Linked DNA regions of Homo sapiens: region 2 is linked to region 1. The links come from fine-mapping of genetic effects on gene expression. Tissue or cell type: whole blood. Region 1 holds a variant in brackets; the other region holds the start of a gene. All regions are shown on one strand. Distances are between the middles of the regions.

What was found. PIP is the estimated chance that this variant, and not a neighbour inherited with it, causes the effect. A credible set is the group of variants that fine-mapping cannot tell apart.
Region 2: it holds the start of SCAMP3, and the variant in region 1 is the best candidate, but not a certain one, in a credible set for the expression of SCAMP3 in whole blood (TOPMed, PIP 0.75).

The regions. Positions count from the first base shown.
Region 1 is chr1:155,570,495-155,581,385 of GRCh38, reverse strand. It overlaps a transcript of MSTO1 not described here and the pseudogene LOC101929703. Among named protein-coding and RNA genes, the nearest start is that of ASH1L, 13 kb to the right of the region's middle. RefSeq lists a silencer at 4,242-4,379. The variant G/T (reference allele first, on the strand shown) is at 6,174.
Region 2 is chr1:155,259,312-155,264,311 of GRCh38, reverse strand. It overlaps SCAMP3 (secretory carrier membrane protein 3), which reads left to right and starts at 1,952. Exons shown (of 9, transcript NM_005698.4): 1 at 1,952-2,226; 2 at 2,578-2,655; 3 at 3,653-3,775; 4 at 3,862-3,982. The coding sequence starts at 2,161. It overlaps CLK2 (CDC like kinase 2), which reads left to right. Exons shown (of 13, transcript NM_001294338.2): 11 at 12-91; 12 at 272-362; 13 at 912-1,444. The coding sequence ends at 1,094.

The DNA.
Region 1 (10,891 bases):
ATACTTCTCCAATATTTTTCAACTGCCATCATTCTGAGCTTTTCCCCATTATCTGCCTCAAGTATTCCAAGACAAAAGAGTTCTGCTTCCAACCACAGTCTTTATTTAAAATGTAGATAATGGCTGGATGAGGTGACTCACACCTATAATGCCCACACTTTGGGAGGCCGAGGTATAAGGATCACTTGAGCCCAGGAGTTCAAGACCAGCCTGGCAAGATAGCAAGACTGCGTCTCTTAAAAACAATTAAAAAACAAAATAAAATGTAGATAAACAAATCCCAAATAGTTGCCTTAGTCTTTTGAAGCTTTTCCAAATGCATGTAAAAAGACATTTTTTTGTATTTGTAATAATCTGTAAGAAACCACAGATTCTTACACACTATTGTGTGTAAAACTCTGCCGCTACTCTGATGAAACTGTTTAGGTAGTGTTAGAGTATTAGAGTTCTCTCTCCCTTTTTTTTTTTTTTTTTTTTTGAGACAGAGTCTCACTCTGTTACCCAAGTGGAGTGCAGTGGCACAATCTTGGCTCACTGCAACCTCTGCCTCCTGGGCTCAAGCAATTCTCCTGCCTCAGCCTCCCGAGTACAGATGCATGCCACCACACTTGGCTAATTTTTTGGTGTTTAGTAGAGATGGGGTTTCACCATGTTGCCCAGGGTGGTTTTGAACTCCTCAGCTCAGGCAATCCGCCCACCTCGGCCTCCCAAAGTGCTGGGATTACAGGCGTGAGCCACCGCACCTGGCCAAATTATCTTTCTTTAAACAAACAACAAAAAGAGTATTCTTGCCTAGACAGGCCAAATGTAACTTCAGAAGGAAGTCAGAAACAGCCTGTGCCAAATTTAGAAAGGTATCCCAAAGACTATGTGCTAAAACTTCAGTGCAGTGGCGTGATCACGGCTCACTGCAACCTCGAACTCTCAGGCCGAAATGATCCTTTCACCTCAGCCTCCCAAGTAACTGGGACCACAGGTGCACACCACCACGCCTGGCTAATTTATTTTTATTATTTTTGTAGAGACAGGGCAGGGTCTTACTATGTTGCCCAGTCTGGTCTCAAACTCCTGGGCACAAGGGATCGTCCTGCCTCCATCTCCCAACATGCTGGGATTACGGGTGTGAGCCACCACACTCGGCCCTTTTTTTTTTTTTTCTTAGAGTCAGGGTCTCATTATGTTACCAAGGCTGGTTTCAAACCGCTGGCCATGCAACCTCTCCCTTCAGCCTCACGAGTAGTTGGGATTACATGTGCGAGCCACTATACCCAGAGAGAATAACAGATTCTTTTTTTTTTTTTTTTCTTTTTGAGATGGACTCTTGCTCTGTTGCCCAGGCTGGAGGGCAGTGGCCCGATCTCGGCTCACTGCAACCTCTGCCTCCCGGGTTCAAGAAATTCTCTTGCCTCAGCCTCCCAAGTAGCTGGGATTACAGACACACCACCACGCCTGGCTAATTTTTGTATTTTTAGTAGAGACGAGGTTTCACCATTTTGGCCAGTCTGGTCTCAAACTCCTCAACCTCAAGTGATCTGCCTGCCTCGGCCTCCCAAAGTGCTGGGATTACAGGCGAGAACCACAGATGCTTAAGATTATGTCGACCTAGTCTAAGGATTGAACTCGTTCAGAACTAAATCAGTGCTACATTGATCTTAATATTAATCACTGAATATTTTTCTGAAATAGGCTCTATAATAAGCAAATTAAAGGCATTATCTTACAACAGTCCCATCAGGTACACGTTATTATGCTCAGCTGAAAATAAGTATGGATAGATTAACTCCAAGGGTATATATCCTAAAATCAGGCAGTTTTAGAATTGAAATCTATGTTTGACTCTCAAGCCTTTCCCATTAGCCACTATATATGCTACACTGTCAATCAGCAAATGCCTAATGATTTCCAGTGATGGGGAACTCAATAGGAAGTCATTATGGTTTTTACACAGCTTTTAATAAAAGTTCTTCAGTAGTTCGAGGCAACATGTCTCCTTGTAGCTTCCATTCACTGTCCTAGTCTTCCTCTTGGGTTTTTTGTTTGTTTGTTTGTTTGTTTGTTTGTTTGCTTGTTTTGAGATGGAGTTTCACTCTTGTTGCCCAGGCCAGAGTGCAATGGCTTGATCTCGGCTCACCACAACCTCTGCCTCCCGGGTTCAAGCGATTCTCCCGCCTCGGCCTCCCGAGTAGCTAGGATTGCCTGCATGCGCCACCATGTCCATGTCCAGCTAATTTTGTATTTTCAGTAGAGACGGGGTTTCTCCATGTTGGTCAGGCTGGTCTTGAACTCCCAACCTCAGGTGATCCGCCTGCCCCAGCCTCCCAAAGTGCTGGGATGACAAGCGTGAGCCACCACACCTGGCCTCCTCTTGGGTTTTACAAGCCATCTTCCACATGACAGCTTTTCAATTATTAAAGGTAGTTATGGGCCGGGTGCAGTGGCTCACACCTGTAATCCCAGCACTTTGGGAGGCCGAGGTGGGCAGATCACCTGAGGTCAGGAGTTTGAGACCAGCCTGGCCAATATGGCGAAACCTCGTCTCTACTGAAAAAAAAAAAAACAAAAAAAAAACCACACAGGGCCGGGCGCGGTGGCTCACGCCTGTAATCCCAGCACTTTGGGAGGCCGAGGCGGGCGGATCACAAGGTCAGGAGATCGAGACCATCTTGGCTAACACGGTGAAACCCCATCTCTACTAAAAATACAAAAAATTAGCCGGGCGCGGTGGCGGGCGCCTGTAGTCCCAGCTACTCGGGAGGCTGAGGCAGGAGAATGGCGTGAACCTGGGAGGCGGAGCTTGCAGTGAGCCGAGATTGTGCCACTGCAGTCTGGCCTGGGCTAAAGAGTGGGACTCCGTCTCAAAAAAAAAAAAAAAAAAAAAGATTAGCCGGGCGTGGTGGCGCATGCCTGTAGTTCCAGCTACTTGGGAGGCTGAGGCACAAGAATCACGTGAACCTGGGAGGCGGAGGTTGCAGTGAGCCAAGACTGCACGCCAGTGTGGGTGACAGAGTGAGACTCTATCTCAAAAAAAAAAAAAAAAAAAAAAAAAAAAGAAAGGTAGTTATGGTCCTCTGCTCCCCACCCCTCCCCCATAAATGCTTTCAGTTTCCTAAAGCAATTATCATGCAGTACAAGTCCCTTCTCTATATTACCCCAATACACTTCAGGTATGATCTACTGTTTCCCTAATTTAGGATATTATATTTCCAAGAGCGACTTTTGTAACTCCATCACACCAGTGCTTCATACGGAGAACACAGTTCACTAAAATCACCAGTCCTTTTTTTAAAAAAATATTGCTACTATCAAAATCCCAGCAATCTTTTTGGTCAAAATTGTCAAGCTAGCTAGGTGCGGTGGCTCATGCCTATAATCCCAGCTCTTTGGGAGGCCAAGGCGGGTGGATCAATTGAGCTAGGAGTTCGATACCAGCCTGGGCAACAGGGTGAAACTCCGTCTCTACGAAAAATACAAAATTAGCTGGGTGTAGTGGCTCGTGCTTGTAGCCCCAGCTAGTTGGGGAGCTGAGGTGGGAGGATCGCTTGAGCCTGAGAAGTCGAAAGTGCAGTGGACTCTAGCGTCGCGCCACTCCACTCCAACCTGGGTGACACAGTGAGACCCTGTCTTAAGAAAAAACTTTTGAAGCTGATCTCAAAATTCATATGGAAATGCCATAGACCTAGAATAGCCCAAGCATTCTTGAAAAATAACAAATTTAAAGGACTCATACATCTTGATTCCAAAACTTACGATAAAGCTACAGTAATCAAGATAGTCTGGTACTGGCATACGCTTACATCATGGTCAACTGATTTTCAACATGGATGCCAAGACACTTCAATGAAGAAAGAATAGTCTCTTCAACAAATAGTGCTGGGACAACCTGATACTCATGCAAAAGAATGAAAATGGACCCCTACCTTACATTATACACAAACATGAATGCAAAATAGCTCATAGACCTAAATGTAAGAGCTACAGGTATAAAACTTGGAGGGGGCGGCCGGGCGTGGTGGCTCACGCCTGTAATCCCAGCACTTTGGGAGGCCGAGGCGGGTGGATCACGAGGTCAGGAGATCGAGACCATCCTGGCTAACATGGTAAAACCCCATCTCTACTAAAAATACAAAAAATTAGCCGGGCGTGGTGGCAGGCGCCTGTAGTCCCAGCTACTCCGGAGGCTGAGGCAGGAGAATGGCGTGAACCTGGGAGGTGGAGCTTGCAGTGAGCTGAGATTGCGCCACTGCACTACAGCCTGGGTGACAGAGCGAGACTCCATCTCAAAAAACAAACAAACAAACAAAAAAAAGACAAAAAAAAAAACTTGCAGGGGTGAGTTTTCTAACTTTTTTTTTTTTTTTTTTTTTTTTTTTGAGACGGAGTTTTGCTCTTGTTGCCCAGGCTGGAGTGCAATGGCACGATCTCGGCTCACTGCAACCTCCGCCTCCCGGGTTCAAGCCATTCTCCTGCCTCAGTCTCCCGAGTAGCTGGGATTACAAGCGCCTGCCACCACGCCCGGCTAATTTTTTGTATTTTTAGTAGAGATGGGGTTTTACCATGTTAGCCAGGATGGTCTCGATCTCCTGACCTCAGGTGATCCACCCAGTTTGGCCTCCCAAAGTGCTGGGATTACAGGCGTGTGCCACTGCGCTCAGCCTCTAATTTTCTATAGCAGAAAATACAGGAGTAAATCTTCATTATCGTGTGTTATGCAATGGTTTCTTAGATATAACATCAAAAGCACAAGCAAAAGAACTAAAAATAGGCTGGGCACAGTGGCTCACACCTGTAATCCCAGCACTTTGGGAGGCTGAGGTGGGCGGATCACAAGGTCAAGATATCGAGACCATCATGGCCAACATGGTGAAACCCCATCTCTACTAAAAATACAAAACTTAGATGGGCGTGGTGGTGCGCACCTGTAGTCCCAGCTACTCAGGAGGCTGAGGCAGGAGAATCACTTGAACCCGGGAGGCGGAAGTTGCAGTGAGCTGAGATCGCGTCACTGCAGTCCAGCCTGGTGACAGAGACTCCGTCTCAAAAAACAAAAACAAAAACAAAACAGAACAAAACAAAAAAACTATAAATAGATAACGAATTGTATCCAAATCAGACACTTGTACTTCAAAGGATACCATCAAGTAAGTGGAAGACAACCCACAGGATGGGAGAAAATATTTGCAAATCACATAGAACTTAACTTATCTCCATAATATATAAAGAACATTTACAACTTAATAAAAAGGCAACTCAATTTAAAAATGGGGGGCCTGGCGGGGTGGCTCACACCTGTAATCCCAGCACTTTGGGAGGCCGAAGCAGGCGGATCACCTGAGGTCAGGAGTTTGAGACCAGCCTGGCCAACATGGAGAAACCCCTTCTCTACTAAAAATACAAAATTAGCTGGGCGTGGTGACGTGTGCCTGTAGTCCCAGCCACTTGGCAGGCTGAGGCAGGAGAATCGCTTGAGCCCAGGAGGTGGAGGTTGCAGTGAGCCGAGATCACGCCATTGCACTGCAGCCTGGGCAACAGAGCGAACTCTGTCTCAAAAATAAATAAATAAATAAATAAATAAATAAATAAATAAATAAAAATAAAATAAGACAAAAATAAACAATAAAATAAATAAATAAAATAGGCAAAAGAGCCAGGTGCAGTGGCTCACACCTGCAATCCCAGCACTTTGTGAGGCTGAGGCAGAAGGATTGCTTATGCCCAGGAGTTTGAGACCAGCCTGGGTAACATAATGAGACCTGCTCTCTACAAAAAATTTAAAAAATTAGCCAGGTGCGGTGGCGTGCCACTGTGGACCCAGCTATTTGGGGGGCTGAGCGGGGAGGATCACCTGGGTCTGGGAGGCTGAGGCTGCAGTGAGCCGTGATTGCACCACTGCACTCCAGCCGGGGGCAACAGAGTGAGACCCTGACTCAAATTAAGAAAAAAAAAGGCAAAAGATTTGAGCAGGCATTTCTCCAAAGTATAAAAGTTATACAAATGGCCAATAAGCACATGAAAAATGCTCAACATTATTAGTCATCTAGAAAATGCAAATAAAAACCACAATGAGATACCACTTCACACCCACTAGGATGGCTCAAATCAAAAGAACTGACAATGATATGTGTTGGACAGGATCTGGAAAAACTGGGATTCTCTCTCTCTCTTTTTTTTTTTGA[G/T]GGTCAAAGAACTCATTTATTTTTACTCATAGAAAGTACAAGTATTAGCCTGGCATGGTGGCTCACACCTGTAATCCCAGCACTTTAGGAAGCTGAGGCGAGTGAATCACCCGAGGTCAGGAATTTGAGAGCAGCCTGGTCAACATGGCAAAACTCCGTCTCTACTAAAAATACAAAAATTAGCTGGGCATGGCGGCGCATGCCTGTAATCCCAGCTAATCGGGAGGTTGAGGCAGGAGAATCGCTTGAACCCGGGAGGTGGAGGTTGCAGTGAGCCGAAATAGTGCCACTGCACTCCAACCTGGCAACAGGAGACTCCGTCTCAAAAAAAAAAAAAAAAAAGAAAAAGTTCTAAAATTAGATAGTGGAGGCTGTGCACGGTGGCTCAGGCCTGTAATCCCAGCACTTTCGGAGACCAGGAGTTCGAGACCAGCCTGGGCAACATAGGAAAACCTTATCTCTACTACTAATAAAAAAAATTAGCTGAACATAGTTGCCTGTGCCTGTAGTTCTGGCTGCTCAGGAGGCTGAGGCAGGAGGATCCCTTGAGTCAAGAAGCTAGAGGTTGCAGTGAGCTAGGATTGCACCACTGCACTCCAGCCTGGGTAACAGAGTGAGGTCCTATTTGAAAGCAAGCAAACAAACAAACCAATGTAAACTTACAGATGAGTTGCAAACGTAGTACGAAGAGCTTTCGTACACTCTTCATTCAGCTTTCCTTAATGTTATATATATGTCTATATATATATATACAACTATAGGACAGTTATCAAAATTAAGAAATTAAAGTTGGAACAATACTATTTACTAAACTACAGATTTTATTTGGATTTCCTCAGCTTTTCTGCTATGTCTTTTTCTTTTTTTGAGACAAGGTCTTGCTCTGTCACCTAGGCTGCAGTGTGATGACGTGATCTTGGCTCATTGTAATCTCCACCTCAATCCTTGGACTTCAGCCTCTCAAGTAGCTTGGACTACAGGCATATGCCACTACACTTGGCTAATTTTTGTGTTTTTTGTTGAGATGGGGTTTCACCATGTTGTCCAGGCTGGTCTTCAACTCCTGGGCTCAAGCGATATGCCTGCCTCTGCCTCCTAAAAGTGCTGGGATTACAGGCGTGAGCCACTGCACCCAGCCTAATGTCTTCTTTTTGTTATAAGATCCAACAGAAGATTCCACATCTGAAGATCTTTTTGTTTTTTAAAATCTGTCACCAACATATTACCCACCCTTTAAAAATTTTGCAAAAGGTATAAATTTGAAAAATATATCCACATCGATCTCATTCAAGTCATTGATACAACTATTTAACAGGATACGATTGCCTAGCATAGCCTGGGTACAGTTTGTAATTTTTTTTTTTTTTTTTTTGTGAGATGGAGTTTTGCTTTTGTCACCCAGGCTGGAGTGCAATAGCGTGATCTCGGCTCACTGTAACCTCTGTCTCCTGGTTTCAAGCAAGTCTCCTGCCTCAGCATCCCTAGTAGCTGGGATTACAGGCACCTGCCACCACGCCCAGCTAATTTTTGTATTTTTAGTAGAGTCAGGGTTTCACCATGTTGGCCAGGCTGGTCTCAAACTCCTGACCTTAGGTGATCAGCCAGTTTCACCATCCCAAAGTGCTGGGATTACAGGCGTGAGCCACTGCGCCTGGTCAGTTCGTATTTTTTTTTTCCGTAGGGACAGGGTTTCGCCATGTGGTCCAGGCTAGTTTCAAACTCCTGAGCTCAAGCGATCTGTCTACCTTGGCCTCTCAACTGCTGGCATTACAGGCGTGTGCCACCATTCCCAGCTAATTTTTCTATCTTTTTTGTAGAGAAAGGATCTCATTATGTTGCCCAGGTTGCTCTCAAACTCTTGGGCTCAAGCGATCCACCTGCCTTGGCCTCTCAAAGTGCTGGGATTATAGATGTGAGCCACTGTCTGGCCCACTTGGGTATAGTTTAAAAATTCTGATACCCAGAGTGTGCCTCAGATCAATTAAATCAGCCTCTGATAGTGACCCAGGCATCAATATTTTTAAAGCTCCCCAGCTTATTCCAATGTGCAGCCAAGAGTGATAACCACTGCCTGTATGTCCATGGTTAAGGGAACTTCAACCCATTTTGCTAACATGTAGCCTTTGGGTATGGTTATTCAACCAATTAAACATTCAGTATACATTTCTCCAAAAAGCCACTGTGCGAGATTATCAAATGCCTAACTTTAATGAGGACATACCAATAATGGAATTTGATCTACCATTCTAAGAATTCTTTTTTTTGACTGGCGCAGTGGCTCACACCTGTCATCTGAGCACTTTGGGAGGCCAGGGCGGGTGGATCGCCTGAGGTCGGGAGTTCGAGACCAGCCTGACCAACATGGAGAAACCCCATCTCTACTAAAAATACAAAATTAGCCAGACGTGGTGGCGCATGCCTGCAAACCCAGTTACTTGGGAGGCTGAGGTGGGAGAATCGCTTGAACCCAGGAGGCGGAGGTTGCAGCAAACCGAGATCATGCCATTGCACTCCAGCCTGGGCAACAAGAGCGAAACTCCATCTCAAAAAAAAGAAAAAAAAATTCTCCATCTCCCGGGTTCAAGCAATTCTCTGCCTCAGCCTCCCGAGTAGCTTGGGATTACAGGTGCCCGAAACCATGGCTGGTTAAGTTTTGTATTTTTAGTAGAGACGGGGTTTCACCATCTTGGCCAGGATGGTCTTGAACTCCTGACTTCGTGATCCACCAGCCTGTCCTCTCAAAGTGCTGGGATTACAGGCGTGAGCCACCGCACCCGGCCATTCCAGGAATTCTAACAAGAAGGATATATTTGTCTGTCATGACTTTCTTTTGTACTAAACCCAGACTGATTCCTCATGATCAGTAATTCTTTCTCTAAATTAGTAGTTCTCTACCAGGGGGATTTTGTCCCCTCCCCCAACATTTGACAATGAATGTTTGGAGGCATTTTGGTTGTCACAGCTGAGGGAGGGAAGGGAGGATGCTATTGGCATCGAGTGAGTAGAGGCCAGGTATGTTGCTAAAGTCTACAATGCACAGGGAGTCCCCCACAACAAAGAATGATCCATCCCCAAATGTCAACAGTGTTGAGGTTGAGATTGTCCTAAATCCCAAGTCCCATAGGAAAAGTTTGGCTCACAAAGACTAATTTCTTTTTTTTTTTTTTTTTGAGACAAGAGTCTCACTCTGTCGCCCAGGCTGCAGTGCAGTGGCGCAATCTTGGCTCACTGCAACCTCCGCCTCCTGGGTTCAAATGATTCTCCTGCCTCAGCCTCCCAAGAAGCTGGGATTATAGGTGTCTGCCACCACATCCGACTAATTTTTGTATTTTTAGTAGAGATGAGGTTTCACCATGTTGGCCAGGCTGACCTCCTGACCTCAAGTGATCTGCCCTCCTCGGCCTCCCAAAGTGCTGGGATTACAGGCGTAAGCCACCATGCCAAGCCACAAAGAGTAATTTCATTGTTTTCATAATTTCAGAGAGAAAAAGCAGAATTCCTTATGCTGTATTTTCTCATCTTAATAATATCTATCTCCCCAGGTTTGGATTCCTAGAGCAATGTTAGAGCTATAAAAGTAAAAGAGTTCTGAAATTTACTGATTATCACAAACTTCAACAGTGCTAACTTCTCCAAGCTCTAAGGTTTTTGTTTGAGATAGGGTCTCCTGCAGTCTCCAAGGCTTGAGTGCAGTGGTATCATCGCTCACTGCAGTCTTGAACTCCTGGGCTCAAGTGATCCTCTCCCTTCAGCCTCCTGAGGAGCTTGGACTACAGCAGGGGTGTCCAATCTTGGCTTTCCTGGGCCACGTCGAAAGAATTGTCTTGAGCCACACATAAAACACACCAACACTAACAACAGCTGATGAGCTAAAATAGCAACAACAACAATGAAATCACAGAAAAAAAAGGCTCTTAATGTTTTAAGAAAGTTTATCAATTTGTGTTGGGCCCTATTCAAAGCCGTCCTGGGTTGTATGCAGCCCATGGGCCACAGGTTCGACAAGCTTGGACTATAGGCATGTACCACCATGACTGGCTAATTTTTACTTTTTTATAGAGATGGGGCTATGTTGCCAGGCTGGTCTTCAGCTCCTGGCCTGAAGCAATTCTCCCACTTTGGCCTCCCATAAAGTGCTGGGATTATACATGTGAGCATTGTGTCCGGCCAACCTCAGTCTTGTAGCTATAGGTGTTTTTGCTAGAAATAATGCATGTGGTTTACAATTCTGATAACAGTGCAAGTGATGATACAATATACACTTTTTAAAGCTCCCCAGCTTTTAAAGCTGCATTAGCTCTTCTGCAATGAAGAAAGCAAGAAGGAAGGAAATACAGTAGTCCACCCTTATCCTCGGGAGATCCCACTGCAGGATTCCCAGGGGATGCCTGAAACCATACAGAGTACTGATCACTAAATAAATAAACACACACACAAACACACACACACAGTTTTTTCCTATAGGTATATACCTATAATCAAGTTTAATTTATAAATCTGGCACAGTAACAAATGAACAGCAATAACCAATAAGAAAACGGAACAATATACCATACAAAAGTTATGTGAACATGGTCTCGCTCATTCTCAAAATATCTCATAGTACCGTGCTCACCCTTCTTGTGTTGAAGTGAGATGATAAAACGCTTATAAGATAAGATAAAGTGAATGACTTAGGAATTCTGATGTAGCTAATATCAACCTTCTGACTATACCTA
Region 2 (5,000 bases), 310 kb after region 1:
TTGTTTCCCAGACCCATGACAACAGAGAGCATCTAGCCATGATGGAAAGGATCTTGGGTCCTATCCCTTCCCGGATGATCCGAAAGACAAGGTGAACCTTGAGGGGGCACTAGTTAACTCTTTTCCTTTTCTCTCCACAGAATTGGTCTATTTCACATCATTTTCTTTTTTCTTTGATACCTCCTCTCCCCCCAGTTACTTTCAGATGGGGAAATAAGGGAATTGTAACAAGGGTGACCTTCTGATTCCTCAACCTCCCCTTCCCCTCTAGAAAGCAGAAATATTTTTACCGGGGTCGCCTGGATTGGGATGAGAACACATCAGCTGGGCGCTATGTTCGTGAGAACTGCAAACCGCTGCGGGTGAGCTGGGCTCGGGATAAATAGTGCCCACCGTCCAGAAGTCACTTCCTTCTTAGGGTGGTTTGCCCCCTGGAATGCTCTTCACAAGCAGAGGGTTAGGAAAGGAGGGGAGGAAAGCTGAAAGAAGACATCTTTGGTCAACAGAGGAAACATAAGAGGGAGTGGTTTTGTGGAGGGAAGGAGGTTAGACAGCCTAACCTTGAGACAACCAGAGATCAAAGCAATGTCCTGGATTCTTTAGGTCAGACAGAAAAGAATAAACTACCTTTGAAGAGCTTACATTTTAATGAGGAACTAAAGAAGATTCATGAAGTTGACAAGGATATACAAGTAGAAAGAACTTTCAAAGATTATGGAGTAATTGTGCTAGTGGGAAGGTAGGTTGAGCTATAATATCAGAAACGTTGGTCCTGGTGTGGTCGTGGTTAGGTAGCCTTCAAATTGGTTGCAAGCAGAGCCTTGGTTCTCCAAGAATGAAAGGTAGGGTCTTGAAGAAGGCAGGGTTTGTAAGGCATCCTGCCTCACCTTTTTCCTGCCCTCCTCCACCAGCGGTATCTGACCTCAGAGGCAGAGGAACACCACCAGCTCTTCGATCTGATTGAAAGCATGCTAGAGTATGAACCAGCTAAGCGGCTGACCTTGGGTGAAGCCCTTCAGCATCCTTTCTTCGCCCGCCTTCGGGCTGAGCCGCCCAACAAGTTGTGGGACTCCAGTCGGGATATCAGTCGGTGACGATCAGGCCCTGGGCCCCCCTGCATCTTTTATAGCAGTGGGTGTCCAGTCCAGGACACTGGTGCTTTTTTATACAAGAGAACGAGCCAGAGTTCACTCCTTCCTCCTGGCTCTCTATATACCTGTGAATATGTGAAATAGTGTAAATATGAAAGAACTTGTACCTATCACTTCAACCCCTGCCTTGTACATAATACTATTCCATCCACACAGTTTCCACCCTCACCTGCCCCCTCATACGGAGTTGGATGGGGGCCGAGTGAGGTAACCAGGTGGCATCTACCCCATGTTTTATAAGGAATTTTGTACAGTCTTTGTGAAATAAAATAACGTGCTTCATTTGACCCCCATCCCTGGAGTTGGAGGTTTGGGAATGCTGGGGTGGAGGGATGAAACTATTGGCAAACTTTCTGAGTTTGGGTATGAAGGGAGTCCTCCTTACCCTCCAAAATGAAGCACAGCCAGGCTACCAGTTTATTTCCCCTGTCCACCTTATCATATGGGAGGGTAGTGATGGGTGGGGCAGCATTTCTTTCAGATTAAAACAGAGAAGTGTTATGAGGTGGCACTTCTCGGATGTGGAATTATGAGAGTTGGGAAAGATCTGACTCCTAGAGTCATTAGGCCGCGGCCCAGTATAGAGCCAGAAACTCAGGTTGAAAACGTGCTCAACCTGGCTCCTAGGGGGGATTGCCACGACCGGTCAGAAGGCTCCCGTCGTCCATCTCGGGAGACTAGGAAGGCCGGATTCCTACGCGAGGCCTGCTGGGAAGTGTAGTTCGTTAGTGGAAGGAAGTCACATGGAAGAGGGGCGGTAGTTGGTTGTGGGCACTGGGTTAGAGGTATCACGTGGGGGCACTTTCGTCTTAGCTTTTGGACAAGACGCAGGCGCAACCCACGGCTGCTGCGGGGATCCTTGTGGCCCTTCCGGTCGGTGGAACCAATCCGTGCACAGAGAAGCGGGGCGAACTGAGGCGAGTGAAGTGGACTCTGAGGGCTACCGCTACCGCCACTGCTGCGGCAGGGGCGTGGAGGGCAGAGGGCCGCGGAGGCCGCAGTTGCAAACATGGCTCAGAGCAGAGACGGCGGAAACCCGTTCGCCGAGCCCAGCGAGCTTGACAACCCCTTTCAGGTGACTTGCGCCAGTCGGCCTCTTTTGGGCGGTCAGGTTGATTCTTCCCGGTTCTGTAGGGTCGGGCTAACTTGTATCCCCATTTGTGACATTTGATCCTGGGAAGAGCCGCCACGTGGGGTGACAGTGACTCCAGACCAGTGAGCACTCTGGGGGGCGGGCCCTGCCCCTTAATGGGCTGGTGCTGGCAGTGTTGGATGATGGATTTGAGGTAAATGTTGTCCCAGTCCTGGGACAACGGCGTGGCCCCGAAGGTGCAGTACTTGGAGCCACAGGCAGTTTGGGAATGGTCCCTGGGAATTCCCCTAGGTGGCACTGGGTGCCAGCTGAGACCCGGGTCTCTGCCCTCAGGACCCAGCTGTGATCCAGCACCGACCCAGCCGGCAGTATGCCACGCTTGACGTCTACAACCCTTTTGAGACCCGGGAGGTGAGCTACTGGAGAGCATAGGAGTTCAAGGAAGGGAAGGGTTTGCCAGTGAGACAAGTTAGCTTGGGTACAGGGGACTTTTCTGCATGCACAGGAAGGAAGAGGCACTGTGATCTTAGTTCCCTGAGAGAGGCTAGTCAGCCATGGGATGCCTCATCCTTCTAGGGCCACCAGGGCCACCAACCCAAATGGTTTGAGCTCTAAAAGTCAGTCCTGGGAAGATCTGGAGGCTGGCAAGGCCTTAACCAATGTTCTGTATGGGAAGGCTTTCTTGAAGAAAATAAAGGTTGGGGCTGGTTGGAGTTTAGGTTAGGTGTGCAGTTTGAAAGCAAGGAATGAGGAGGACTACACCTGTTTGTCCCACTGGATTAGAAGATGGTGAGTTGTAAGAATTTAAGGGGTTTTCATGGTACTTAAAACTTAAAAAAAAAAGCCAAGCATGGTGTGCATGCCTGTAATCCCACTTGGGAGGCTGAGGTGGGAGGATTGCTTGAGCCCAGGAATTTGATGGAGACCATCCTGGGCAACAGCGAGACCCCCATCTCTTGAAACGTTTTAAAAATTGGCTAGGTGTAGTGGCACATGCCTGTAGTCCTTGCTACTTGGGAGGCTGGGATGGAAAGACTGCTTGGGCCCAGGAGTTTGAGGCTTCGATGAGTGATGATTGCACCACTGCACTCCAGCCTGGGTGGCAGAGAGACAACCCCACACTCCATCCCCAGAAGAAAAGAAAAAAAAAAAACACAGTTAAGTGGGGAGATATGGTAAATGAGTGATTTGAGTCCTCACTAAGGAATTGGATATGAGGGATGATAAGGCTGCTACAGGTCATCATAGAGTTCTCTGACAGAAATTCAACAGAAGAACTAGCTTCCTAACAAATGGGGGAAAGGCTGCTTCCTTACATCATGAGTTCTGGGTCTAAAGGTATTCAAGCAGACTCTAGATTCCTGTGTTATGAGGGACTAGATGATCACTAAGGTCTTTTCCTCAACAGCCACCACCAGCCTATGAGCCTCCAGCCCCTGCCCCATTGCCTCCACCCTCAGCTCCCTCCTTGCAGCCCTCGAGAAAGCTCAGCCCCACAGAACCTAAGAACTATGGCTCATACAGCACTCAGGTACAGGAGGTGTGCAGGTGAGGGCTGGGGAGAAGGGCCAGTCCTGGGGCCCAGGGCTCACATCTCCGTCTGCTCACACTGGGCAGGCCTCAGCTGCAGCAGCCACAGCTGAGCTGCTGAAGAAACAGGAGGAGCTCAACCGGAAGGCAGAGGAGTTGGACCGAAGGGAGCGAGAGCTGCAGCATGCTGCCCTGGGGGGCACAGCTAGTAAGTAATAGAGTGGGGAAGAGCATCTGAGAGTTTGGGAGGAGCAAAAACAGGTCTTAAGGGCCTGGGCTCGGCTGGGTGCGGTGGCTCACACCTATAATCCCAGCACTTTGGGAGGCTGAGGTGGGCGGATCACGAGGTCAAGAGATCGAGACCATCCTAGCCAACATGGTGAAACCCTGTATCTACTAAAAATACACACACACAAAAATTAGCTGGGCATGGTGGCGCGCACCTGTAGTCCCAGCTACTCGGGAGGCTGAGGCAGGAGAATCGCTTGAACCCGGGAGGTGGAGGTTGCAGTGAGCCGAGATAGCGCCACTGCACTCCAGCCTGGTGACAGAGTGAGACTCCATCTCAAAAAAAAAAAAAAACACAAACCTGGGCTCTGGAGTCAGACTGCTGAGTTTGAATTTTAGAGATACTGCTTACTAACCATGAGCTTTTAGGGAAGTTACTTAATCTTGAATGCCTCAGTTTCCCTATTTATAAAATGAAAACCACGTTTGCATCCGTTTGACAGGGTTGTTGTGAAGGTTAAACAAAATATATGTGAAGTACTTGGTACAGTGCTTAGATGTTTTAAATAATAATAAACAGTATTAATTTTTCCACTCTCACTTGTCTCCTTGGACCCCAAATTGGAGATAAAAGAGAGGATCCAGGGCTGGGTATGGTGCCTCACGCCTGTAATTCCAACACTTTGGGAGGCCGAGGCAGGCAGGTTGCTTGAGCTCAGGAGTTAGAGACCAACCTGGACAACATAGTGAGATCCTGCCTCCAAAACATTAATGAAAAAAATTAGCAGGGCATGATGGTACCTGTCTGTAGTCCTAGCTCCTCAAGAAGCTGAGGTGGACGGCCAGGCGCCGGGGCTCATGCCTGTAATCCCAGCACTCTGGGAGGCCAAGGCGGGTGGATCACCTGAGGTCAGGAGTTCAGGACCAGCCAACATGGTGAAACCCTGTCTCTACTAAAAATACAAAAATTAGCTGGGCGTGGTGGCATGTGCCCATAA